Linked DNA regions of Homo sapiens: region 2 is linked to region 1. Evidence: fine-mapped expression QTL. A gene starts in region 1. The other region holds a variant in brackets. All regions are shown on one strand. Distances are between the middles of the regions. Region 1 holds the start of SRM (spermidine synthase). Region 2 has its middle 11 kb from the start of TARDBP.

What was found. PIP is the estimated chance that this variant, and not a neighbour inherited with it, causes the effect. A credible set is the group of variants that fine-mapping cannot tell apart.
Region 2: its variant is the best candidate, but not a certain one, in a credible set for the expression of SRM in whole blood (Lepik 2017, PIP 0.51).

Annotation. Positions count from the first base shown.
Region 1 is chr1:11,057,636-11,063,009 of GRCh38, reverse strand. SRM (spermidine synthase) reads left to right here and starts at 2,992. Exons shown (of 8, transcript NM_003132.3): 1 at 2,992-3,233; 2 at 3,665-3,785; 3 at 4,118-4,210. The coding sequence starts at 3,067. RefSeq lists silencers at 2,543-3,072, 3,283-3,472.
Region 2 is chr1:10,998,512-11,003,885 of GRCh38, reverse strand. No RefSeq gene overlaps it. Among named protein-coding and RNA genes, the nearest start is that of TARDBP, 11 kb to the left of the region's middle. The variant A/T (reference allele first, on the strand shown) is at 2,647.

The sequences.
Region 1 (5,374 bases):
TCTCTCCTCTACCCTTTCTCCCCTTTTTCCTTTTATAATAACACTTTTTAGGAGGTTGGGTGGGATAGTTAACCCACTAGACACTTAAGCTTTACAACTGGGTTTTTGAGGTACATTGGTCTGAATTTAGGGGAAAACATTTCATGCTAAAGCCTGATTTTCTCAGTCCTGGTTGTTTGGTTGTTTTTTTGTTTTGTTTTGTTTTGTTTTTTGGTGTTGGGGGTGTTTTTTTTTGTTTTTTTTTTTTTCCTTTCTTGGAGACAGGGTCTCGCTCTGTCACCTAGGCTGGAGTGCAGTGGTGCGACTGTGGCTCACTGCAACCTCCGCCTCCTGGGTTGAAGCAATTCTCATGCCTCAGCCTCCCAAGTAGCTGGGATTACAGGTGCACGCCACAATGGCAGCTAGTTTTTGTATTTTTAGTAGAGATGGAATTTCACCACCTTGGCCAGGCTGGTCTTGAACTCCTGACCTCAGGTGATCCACCCGCTTTGGCCTCCCGAACTGCTGGGATTACAAGCGTGAGCCACCACGCGTGGCCAATCCTGGTTTTTTTCTGTAGACTTCTGTGGTCATCTGGCCTGACTTTAACGTCAGTTGTGATTATAACTGGGCTGTGCAATAATGGCTACTTCTGGCAAAATCAGTTTTTCTTCCTTGTGACCTGAAGTCAGGTGGCATTTCTGGATTCACAGTGCTGTATATTTGGGGGCTTTTTTGTCTGTAATTTACTCAGGGCTTTTGTCTTCTCTGAACTTGGAAGGTTTGTGCAATGTCTGTACACTCTGGCCGAGAGGTCTCAAGTTCTGTGCCTGCTTGAGGCTGAGGCCTCTCAGTTTCACTCCCTCTACAGGAGGACAAAGGATGTCAATGTGGCCTTTTTCATGTGAGGACCCACATGCTGGAGCAGCTTTGTCCAGCTTATAGAGGGGATGGGATGGACCTGGCCCTCCACTTTCCCCCATGCAGTGTCCTGGAATGCCAGGGCCACTGTCTATGGTCAGTCCTTCACCACCTAAAAGCAAGCTGATCCACAAGGCACCTGGCTGCATCCAGGCCTGTCATCTACGGCCACCATCCTCAGCTTCAGAGCTTATGATCTGGCTCAGGGAACACAGACAAGTACTGCCATCTACAGCCACCATCCTCAGCTTCAGAGCTTATGATCTGGCTTAGGGAACACAGACAAGTACACGGGCAGTTACAACCCAGAGGCAGAAATGTCTTGGAGGAAGTACAGGCAATGTAGGCAAACACCTTGACCCAAGTACAGGATTGAACCCAATCAAGCCTGTAGCACTGGACACACTGATTGACTCTGTCTTATCCACTACGTGGACATTTCAAGAATAATCTTCGTTCCTGGAACAAGTCCATGGAAGCTGTTGCCTAGCAATGTTTTTTATTTTTTAGAGACAGTCTTGCTATGTTGCCCAGGCTGGTCTCGAACTCCTGGGCTCAAGCGGTCCTCCTGCCTCGGCCTCCCAAAATTCTAGTATTATCAGCCTGAGCCCCTGTGCCCAGCTGCCTAGCAATTTTTTTTTTTTTTTTTTGAGACGGAGTTTCACTATCGTTGCCCAGGCTAGAGTGCAGTGGCGCAATCTCAGCTCACTGCAACCTCCAACTCCCGGGTTCAAGCGATTCTCCTGCCTCAGCCTCCCGAGTAGCTGGGACTGCAGGCGCGCACTACCATGCCCAGCTAATTTTTGTATTTTTAGTACAGACGGGGTTTCACCATGTTGGCCAGGATCGTCTTGATCTCTTGACCTCGTGATCCGCCCGCCTCCGCCTCCGCCTCCCACAGTGCTGGGATTACCGGGGTGAACCATCACGCCCAGGCACCTAGCAATTCTTTAGCGGTCTTGGTTTACCTCCCCTTTAGAAGGAGCTTAAAAGCAAGCAAGGCACATTGTTGCCTAGGCTTGAGGCTTGCTCTCACCCATAAACAACGCTGTTACTCTGCTCTGGGGACGACACAGGAAACGTTCCCCACCTCCAGGTGGAGGCTGCAAAACGTGTCAAAACCATCCCTGACATAATGTCAAGAGTAGCTTATACTAGTTTCATCTTCCTTCCTTGGCATTCGAACTGCGTGTGGAACAATTAGCATTTAATATTTGGTAATTAGCATGCTTAATGTGATTCTGAGAAGTTCTTTGACATTCTCATAAAAACAGCACATTCCCACCCACCCTTCAAAGAGCAAGACCCAGTTTGTCAAGAAAAATTGCGTGCCAGTCTTTTCTGGTGCTGAATATGTATGTTCTGGGCCTCTTCCTGGACACTGCTGGTAAATTTAGAAACTCGTTTAGAAAAGCACTTCTCTCGTATTCAACAGCCTATAGGCTCATGGCGCAGAATCTAAGGGAAAATGGCTAAATCCAGCTTGTGAATTCGCGGGCTGTGATGATTCTTTCCAAGTAAATAAAAACCCTCGGTTCGCCCCGACGAGCCACATAATCTGTTCAAATCCAACAAGGAACCAGATTTTGGACGCAAAGAAGGATACGTTCTACTCGCCCCGTGCAACAACGTAAACCACTGTAGCCACCCGCTCCCGTGTCTCCAGCCCAAAGGCTGACTCTCCAGTCCGCACGTCGCAGCGCTCTTGCCCTCCACACCAAGCCCGAGTCCCGCAGCCCCTCGAGGCCCTCGGTGCCTCCCAACCCCGAGAAGGAAGCGGGGGCCGGTGGTGCACCGCCCCGGCTGCTTGGGGCGGAGGAAGGACCCGGACCCCTTCCGCCGGCCCAGCCCGCCCCGGAACCCGACCCGGCCGCCCGGCCCCGGCCGGGCCCCACGTGGCCCCTGGAGCGGGCCGCACTACCCTGCTGCCGCCGACGGACGGCGCGCCACAGCCACTCTGCGCCGCTCTGCGAGCCGGTGGCCAATGAGCGCCAGGCGAGGCCGCTTTGCCATTGGCGAGCGCGGGCTCCGCCCCCGCCGGCAGGCCCCGCCCCGCGCCCGGGTTAGGTTGCGGCGCGGGCGGCGGGCGGAGCTGGTCCCGTTGTGCTGCGGCGCCGCGCGGCCTGCAGTCCCGGGCCCGCGCCCCGCGCCGCCCGCCCGCCCGCCATGGAGCCCGGCCCCGACGGCCCCGCCGCCTCCGGCCCCGCCGCCATCCGCGAGGGCTGGTTCCGCGAGACCTGCAGCCTGTGGCCCGGCCAGGCCCTGTCACTGCAGGTGGAGCAGCTGCTCCACCACCGGCGCTCGCGCTACCAGGACATCCTCGTCTTCCGCAGGTACCGCCGCTGCCCGCAGGCGCCTGCCCCCTAGGCTCAGCCCGGGCCGCCTGCTGCCCGCCTCACGGGCCTCTCCACGCCGGGACCCAAGCGGGCTGGACCTCGTCCTGCCCTGGCCCCCTCGCCACCCCTCACACCGCCTCCCTGGGCTGGGGCTGGGACTGCGGGCTGGCCTCTTGGGTGGGGGAGTCGGAGTCTGCGCCCCGCTCCACGTGTCAGCCCTCAGGACACGTCAGAGCCCGAGGAGACCCCGGGTCCCACCCCGGCCTCCACCCGGCGGCCCGCCTGCCGTTCCTCGCCACGTGTCACCATCGCTCCTCATCCCTGGGACCCCTAGGCGGGATGGGGAGACCCTCCTCACCCAGGGCGGCTTGGGGTACGTTTTCCCCACCCCAGAGAACCCAGGTCCCCGACTGTCACTCCGCCCGCAGTAAGACCTATGGCAACGTGCTGGTGTTGGACGGTGTCATCCAGTGCACGGAGAGAGACGAGTTCTCCTACCAGGAGATGATCGCCAACCTGCCTCTCTGCAGCCACCCCAACCCGCGAAAGGTACCCCAGTGTCCCCTGGAACAGTGCCGGACGAGGGGCGGCCCCAGGTGTGCTCCGGGCTCTTCCCAGATGCTGCCTGCATGGTTGTCAGAGAAAGTGCTAGCGAGGCCAGGGGCGTCCCGCGGAGGGGTGGGGGCCGACACTGACGCGGCCTCGGAATCCTAGGGCAGCCCTGGAAGGAACTTCCAGGAAAGGGGACACCGGCACGAAAGCGTTTCCGAGGGTAGAAAAAGATGAGGCCCGTGGGTCCGAGGGGTCAGGGGGTCTGCTTCAGGGGCCTGGGGGCTCCCAGTCCTGCCAGGGCCCCTGCCTTGACTGCCCCCTCCTCCCAGGTGCTGATCATCGGGGGCGGAGATGGAGGTGTCCTGCGGGAGGTGGTGAAGCACCCCTCCGTGGAGTCCGTGGTCCAGTGTGAGATCGACGAGGTGAGTGCCGGCGTAGAGCCAGGTTTGAGTCCTGGTTCTCCCAGCGGCCAGCTGTGCCCTGAAATGGCTGCACACCCCCGAGCAAGGCAGGTAGGGCCTGTTTCTCCATCTGGAAAACACCTGGTCGGGGAGGGTTCAGTAGGAAAACCAGATGGCAGAGGGCCTGGCAGGTGGTGAGGGCACCTGCGTGGCGAGCTCTTACTAAAACTGAGCTGATTTTTTTTTTTTTTTTTTTTTTGAGACAGAGTTTCGCTCTTGTTGCCCAGGCTGGAGTGTGATGGTGCGATCTCGGCTCACTGCAACCTCCACCTCCTGGGCTCAAGTAGTTCTTCTGCCTCAGCCTCCGGAGTAGCTGGGATTACAGACATGCGCTACCATGCCCGGCTAATTTTGTATTTTTAGTAGAGACAGGGTTTCTCCATGTTGGTCAGGCTGGTCTCGGACCTGGCGACCACAGGTGATCCGCCAGCCTCGTCCTCCCAAAGTACTGGGATTACAGGCGTGAGCCACCACGCCCAGCCGACTAAGCTGATTTTTAATCTGAGCCCCAGGCAGGGCCCCAAGACAGCTCAACTATTTGTACGTTACCCCTTACACTCAGTAGCTGCTCACTAAAATCATGCTACGTGCCAGGTGTTGCCCGGGTATGGGGACAGTGGTAGACGACAGATCAGTCCCTGCCCTCTAGGAGCTGATGTCCTAGTTAAAGGAGACATCAGATGGCCAGACGTGGTGGCTCACACCTGTAATCCCAGCACTTTGGGACGCCAAGGCGGGCAGATCACCTGAGGTCAGGAGTTCAAGAGCAGCCTGGCCAACCTGGTGAAACCCCATTTCTACTAAAAATACAAAAATTAGCCGGGCATGGTAGTGCATGTCTGTAAACCCAGCTACTAGGGAGGCTGAGGTGGAAGAATTACTTGAGCCCGGGAGGCGGAAGTTGCAATGAACCGAGATCTCGCCACTGCACTCCAGCCTGGGTGACAGAGGAAGAATCTGTCTCAAAAAAAACAAACAACAAAAATAGAGACATCAAAGGATGGTCTGATGAAGGCAAGACAGGGGCTGGGGGACAGGAGAAGGCAGGGTTCCTGTGAATGCATGGGGGGTGGTCAGGGCAGGCCTCCAGGAGGTGGCGTTTGAGCTGAGACCTCAGTGAAAAGC
Region 2 (5,374 bases), 59 kb after region 1:
AGGGATAGGGTCTCACTCTGTCGCTCACCTTGGAGTGCAGTGGTGCAATCATGGCTTACCACAGCCTTGGCCTCCTGGGCTGAAGCGATCCTCCTGCCTCATCTTCCAGAGTAGCTGGGGCTACAAGTGCACCACCATGTCTGGCTAATTTTTTTTATTTTTAAAATTTTTTGTAGAGATGGGGTCTTCCTACGTTGCCCAGATTGGTCTCATGTTCTTGGCCCTAAGCGATCCTCCCGTCTCGGCCTCCCAATGTGCTGGGATTACTGGCATGAGTCAACTCTTCTCCGGTACGTCTATATTCTTTTGTAAAGAATTTTCCTTCATCACCTGGAGATGAACCACAGTTCCTCCTAACTGCTTAATCCTTTATCAATTTTCAGGATAGACTGACACAATAATCACCTCCAATAGTGACAAATTAATTGTATTTTTTTCTTGTTTAAAAATAGTCACGGCTGGGTGCAGTGGCTTAGGCCTATAATCCTAGCACTTTGGAAGCTGAGGCAGGTAGATTGCTAGAGCCCAGGAGTTCAAGACCAGCCTGTACAACATAGGGAGACCCCATCTCTACAGAAAATTTAAAAACTAGCCAGATGTGGTGGTGCACACCTGTAGTCCCAGCTACTTGGGAGGCTGAGGTGGGAGAATCAGTTGAGCCGGGAGGCGAAGGTTGCAGTGAGCCAAGATCATGCCACTGCACTCCAGCCTAGGAGACAGAGTGAGACCCTGTCTCAAAACTAATAATAATAATAATAATCACTATGAACTCTTGCATTTTTATTTATTTAGTGTTTCAAAATAGGTTATAGTCATTAATGTTTCTAATGATCACATTATTTTACTCAGGCTCTGTGGAAACCCTTTAAACTGACTCTAAGTCCATTGGATGTGTCTCTATTAGCCTTTGAGCACATTCTTGCCTTCTGGACCACCAAGATGTACCGGGCTTGTCTTATATTTTCCCTGCTGTATCCCTGGAATCAGCCATTCCTCAAAGGATCTATGGTTTTTTGTTTTGTTTTGTTTTGTTTTGTTTTGTTTTGTTTTGTTTTGTTTGAAACGAAGTCTCGCTCTGTCACCCAGGCTGGAGTGCAATGGTGTGATCTCAGCTCACTGCAACCTCCACCTCCCAGGTTCAAGTGATTCTCCTGCCTCAGCCTCCTGAGTAGCTGGGATTACAGGTACATGACACCACACCCGGCTAATTTTTGTATTTTTAGTAGAGACAGGGTTTCACCATGTTGGCCAGGCTGGTCTCAAATTCCTGATCACATGATCTGCCCACCTCGGCCTCCCAAAGTGCTGGGATTACAGGCGTGAGCCATCGTGCCCTGCCAATCTCTGGTTTCTTATAGTGGGAAAAACGATTTAGAAATCAGAATCAGGGCATTAGGTTGTTGTCAGAAGCATTTTTTTGTTTGTTTGTTTATTTTTTTGAGACGGAGTTTCGCTCTTGTCGCCTAGGCTGGAGTGCAATGGCGTGATCTCAGCTCACTGCAACCTCGGCCTCCCAGGTTCAAGCAATTATCCTGCCTCAGCTTCCCAAGTAGCTGGGATTATAGGCATGTGCCACCACACCCAGCTAATTTTTGTATTTTTAGTAGAGACGGGGTTTCACCATGTTGGTCAGGCTGGTTTCGAACTCCTGACCTCAGGTGACCCACCCACCTCAGCCTCCCAAAGTGCTGGGATTACAGGCATGAGCCACTGCGCCGGCCTTGTTTGTTCTTTGAGACAAGGTCTGGCTCTGTTGGTCAGGCTGGAGTGCAGTGGCCCAATCTTGGCTCACTATCACCTCTGCCTCATGGACTCAAGCCATCCTCTTACTTCAGCCTCCCTAGTAGCTGGAACTGCAGGCACACACCACCACACCCAGCTCTTTTTTTTTTTGTATTTTCAGTAGAGATGGGGTTTCACCATGTTTCCCAGCCTGGTGCTGAACTCATGAGCTCAAGCGATCTGACCACCTCAGCCTCCCAAAGTGCTGGGATTATAAGCATGAGCCACAGCACCCGGCCCACAAGTACTTTTGAAAGGTAAACTAATACTAAGGTAAGATATTTTTATTTTATCACGATTTACTTTCTTTTTTTTTTTTTTTTTGAGACGGAGTCTCACTCTGTCGCCCAGGCTGGAGTGCAGTGGCACAATCTCGGTTCACTGCAAGCTCCGCCTCCCAGGTTCACGCCATTCTCCTGCTTCAGCCTCCTGAGTAGCTGGGACTACAGGCACCCACCACCACGCCTGGCTAATTTTTTTGTATTTTTAGTAGAGACGGGGTTTCACCATGTTAGCCAGGATGGTCTCGATCTCCTGACCTCATGATCCAACCTCCTCGACCTCCCAAAGTGCTGGGATTGCAGGCGTGAGCCACTGCGCCTGGCTTACTTTCCTTTTAATTTAAGCATCTTAGCTGCCAAAATTAAGGTATGCCTCCCTTATTTGTTCTAGATCTTGGGTTTTTAAAACCATTTTTTGTAAAAAGCCAGTTAGTACATAAATACAAATAACAAAAAAACTGCAGTCTCTTGTTCTCCCCAGCCCCTTCCATATCCCTTATCAGAAGTAACCATTCTTTTAGTTGTTTCTTATGGATATACCTACATCTTTTAAAATAATAAATCTATCCTGCAATTAAAAAAA[A/T]TTTTTTTGAGACAGGGTCTTGCTCTGTCACCCAGGCTAGAGTGCAGTGTCTCGATCTCAGCTCACTGCAACCTCTGCCTCCCGGGCTCAAGCCATCCTCCCACCTCAGCCTCCCCAGTAGCTGGGAATACAGACATGTGCTACCATGCCTGGCTAATTTTTGTATTTTTGCTAGAGATGGGGTTTTGCCATGTTTCTCAGGCTGGTCTCAAACTCCTGGGCTCAACCTTGGCCTCCCAAAGTGTTGGGGTTACAGGCATGAGACACCATGCCTGGCCTTATCCTGCAAAATTTTCATTTATTCAATTTAGAAAGTATCTACTGATTTCCTATTATGTCTAATGAGGGTTTTTTAGCTCACACTTCATTATCATTTCCTCCATCCTCTTAATATACTGATACCTAATATCACCATTTTTGGTTAAATACATATTCAATGTTTTCACTATTATGACTACATAAATTGTGTTCATGACTGAGACAAGTTTTATCTTTTCTTGTGCAACTTTACTTTTTCCTGGAGTTAATAATTGCCTTGCTTTTTCATTTGCTTTGTTCTCTTTGAACATCTAAATAATCATTTTATGCCCTCCAAAAGTTGTGTAAATGTCTTGAATAAGGTTTTCTTCATAGTCAAATCTGTCAGCTAGTTTGTGATTTTTTTGGGGGGGGACAGAGTCTTGCTCTGTTGCCCAAGCTGGAGTGCAGTGGCGTGATCTTGGCTCATTGCAACCTCCGCTTCCCAGGTTCAAGTGATTCTCCTGCCTCAGCCTCCCAAGTAGCTGGGATTACAGGTGTGCACCACCACACCTGACTAATTTTGTATTTTTTTAGTAGAGACGGGGTTTCACCCTGTTGGTCAGGCTGGTCTTGAACTCCTAACCTCAAGTGATCCACTCACCTTGGCCTCCCAAGGTGCTGAGATTACAGGTGAGAGCCACTGTGCCCAGCCAGATAGTTTGTAATTTTTATTTTTTTATTTCTTGGAGTCTTCATGCCTCCTTTCCTGGATTGCTTGCTGGAAATTGTATCAGTTGTCATCCTGGAGACTTCCTTACATGTCTGAAAATGGTCTTATTCCATTTACATGTCATTGGTAGTCCGGTTGCGTACAGAATTTTAGGTTGAAGGTCATTCATACTCAACACTTAGAAGATATTTTTCTGCTGGCGCCTAGCTTCTCTTATTGCTGTTAAGAAATCCATTGCATTCTTGGTCATTCACGTAATCTTCATTTTCTCTCTGGACTCTTTCATGATCTTACCGTATCATCCATTTTCTGAAATTCAAGATGGGCTGATCTGAAGGTAGTCAGTTATCTCAGTTGATCAGTTCAATTCTTTCCCCTTTTCTCACTACTGCACTTGACTAGTCTTAAAAAGAAAAAAAAAAGGGCTGGGCATGATGGCTCACACCTGTAATACCAGCACTTTGGGAGGCTAAGGTGGGTGGATCACCTGAGGTCAGGAGTTCGAGACCAGCCTGACCAACATGGTGAAACCCCATCTTTACTAAAAATACAAAATTAGCCAGGTGTGGTGGCACATACCTGTAATCCCAGCTACTTGGGAGGCTGAGGCAGGAGAATTGCATGAACCCAGGAGGTGGAGGTTGCAGTGAGCTGAGATTGCACCATTGCACTCCAGCCTGGGCAACAACAAGAGTGAAACTCTGTCTCAAAAAAAAAAAAAAAAAAGAATGAAATTCAAGATGATGACTTGGTCTTCCTGAGTATCTTTTTTCATTCATTGTTCTGGGCATATGGTGATCTTTTTGTTATAGAGATTTTTGTCCTTCAATTCTGGGAAAGTTTGTTGTATTATTTCTTTGACAGCTTTTTCCCCAATGATTCCTTGGTTCTCTCTTTCTGAAATTCCTGTTAGCTATTGACTTTCCTACAATGATGCATCATTTTTGAAAATCTTTTTTCTTTTGTTGTTACAATTTTAAAAATTCTACTTTCTGTGAAATTTCCCCAATTTTACCTTCAATATTTTTATTATTATTGTATTTATTTATTCATTCTTTTTTTTTTTTTTGAGATGTAGTCTTGCTCTGTCACCCAGGCTGGAGTGCAGTGGCACAATCTTGGCTCACTGCAACCTCTGCCTCCCGGGTTCAAGTGATTCTCCTGCCTCAGCCTCCTGAGTAGCTGCACTGCAGCTGCCCACCACCACGCCTGGCTAATTTTTGTGTTTGTAGTAGAGTCAGGGTTTCACCATGTTGGCCAGGCAGGTCTCAAACTCCTGGCCTCAGGTAATGCATCTGCATCAGCCTCCCAGAATGTTGAGATTACAGGCGTGAGCCACCGTGCCTGGCACACTGGGGTCTTCCTTTCACATTAGAGGCTCTCTTCTCTTTGTCCAAAATCCATAGCCCAACTCCTTGGACCTGTTGGAATATTTCACAGGAGATTGTTGTTTTGACTCCTTTTATTATTTCCCCTTGGGCAGAAATTGTGCGACCAAAGTGATAACATAATAATTTATTTGAGCATTTATATACCAGGCTCAGAGTTGGCAAATTTAATTCTTACCTCAACTCTATTTACCAAGTACTACTACTATTGACCTTCTCTGAGGAAACTGAGGCACAGAAAGGCCAAGTAACTTGGCCAGAGTCACATAGCCAGTCTGTGGCAAAGCTGAGGTCCTTGGTTCTAGAGCCCACGCTCCTAATCACCTCTAATCCATCTCCTTATTTGGAACCTGGGGGACAATTTGCTCTC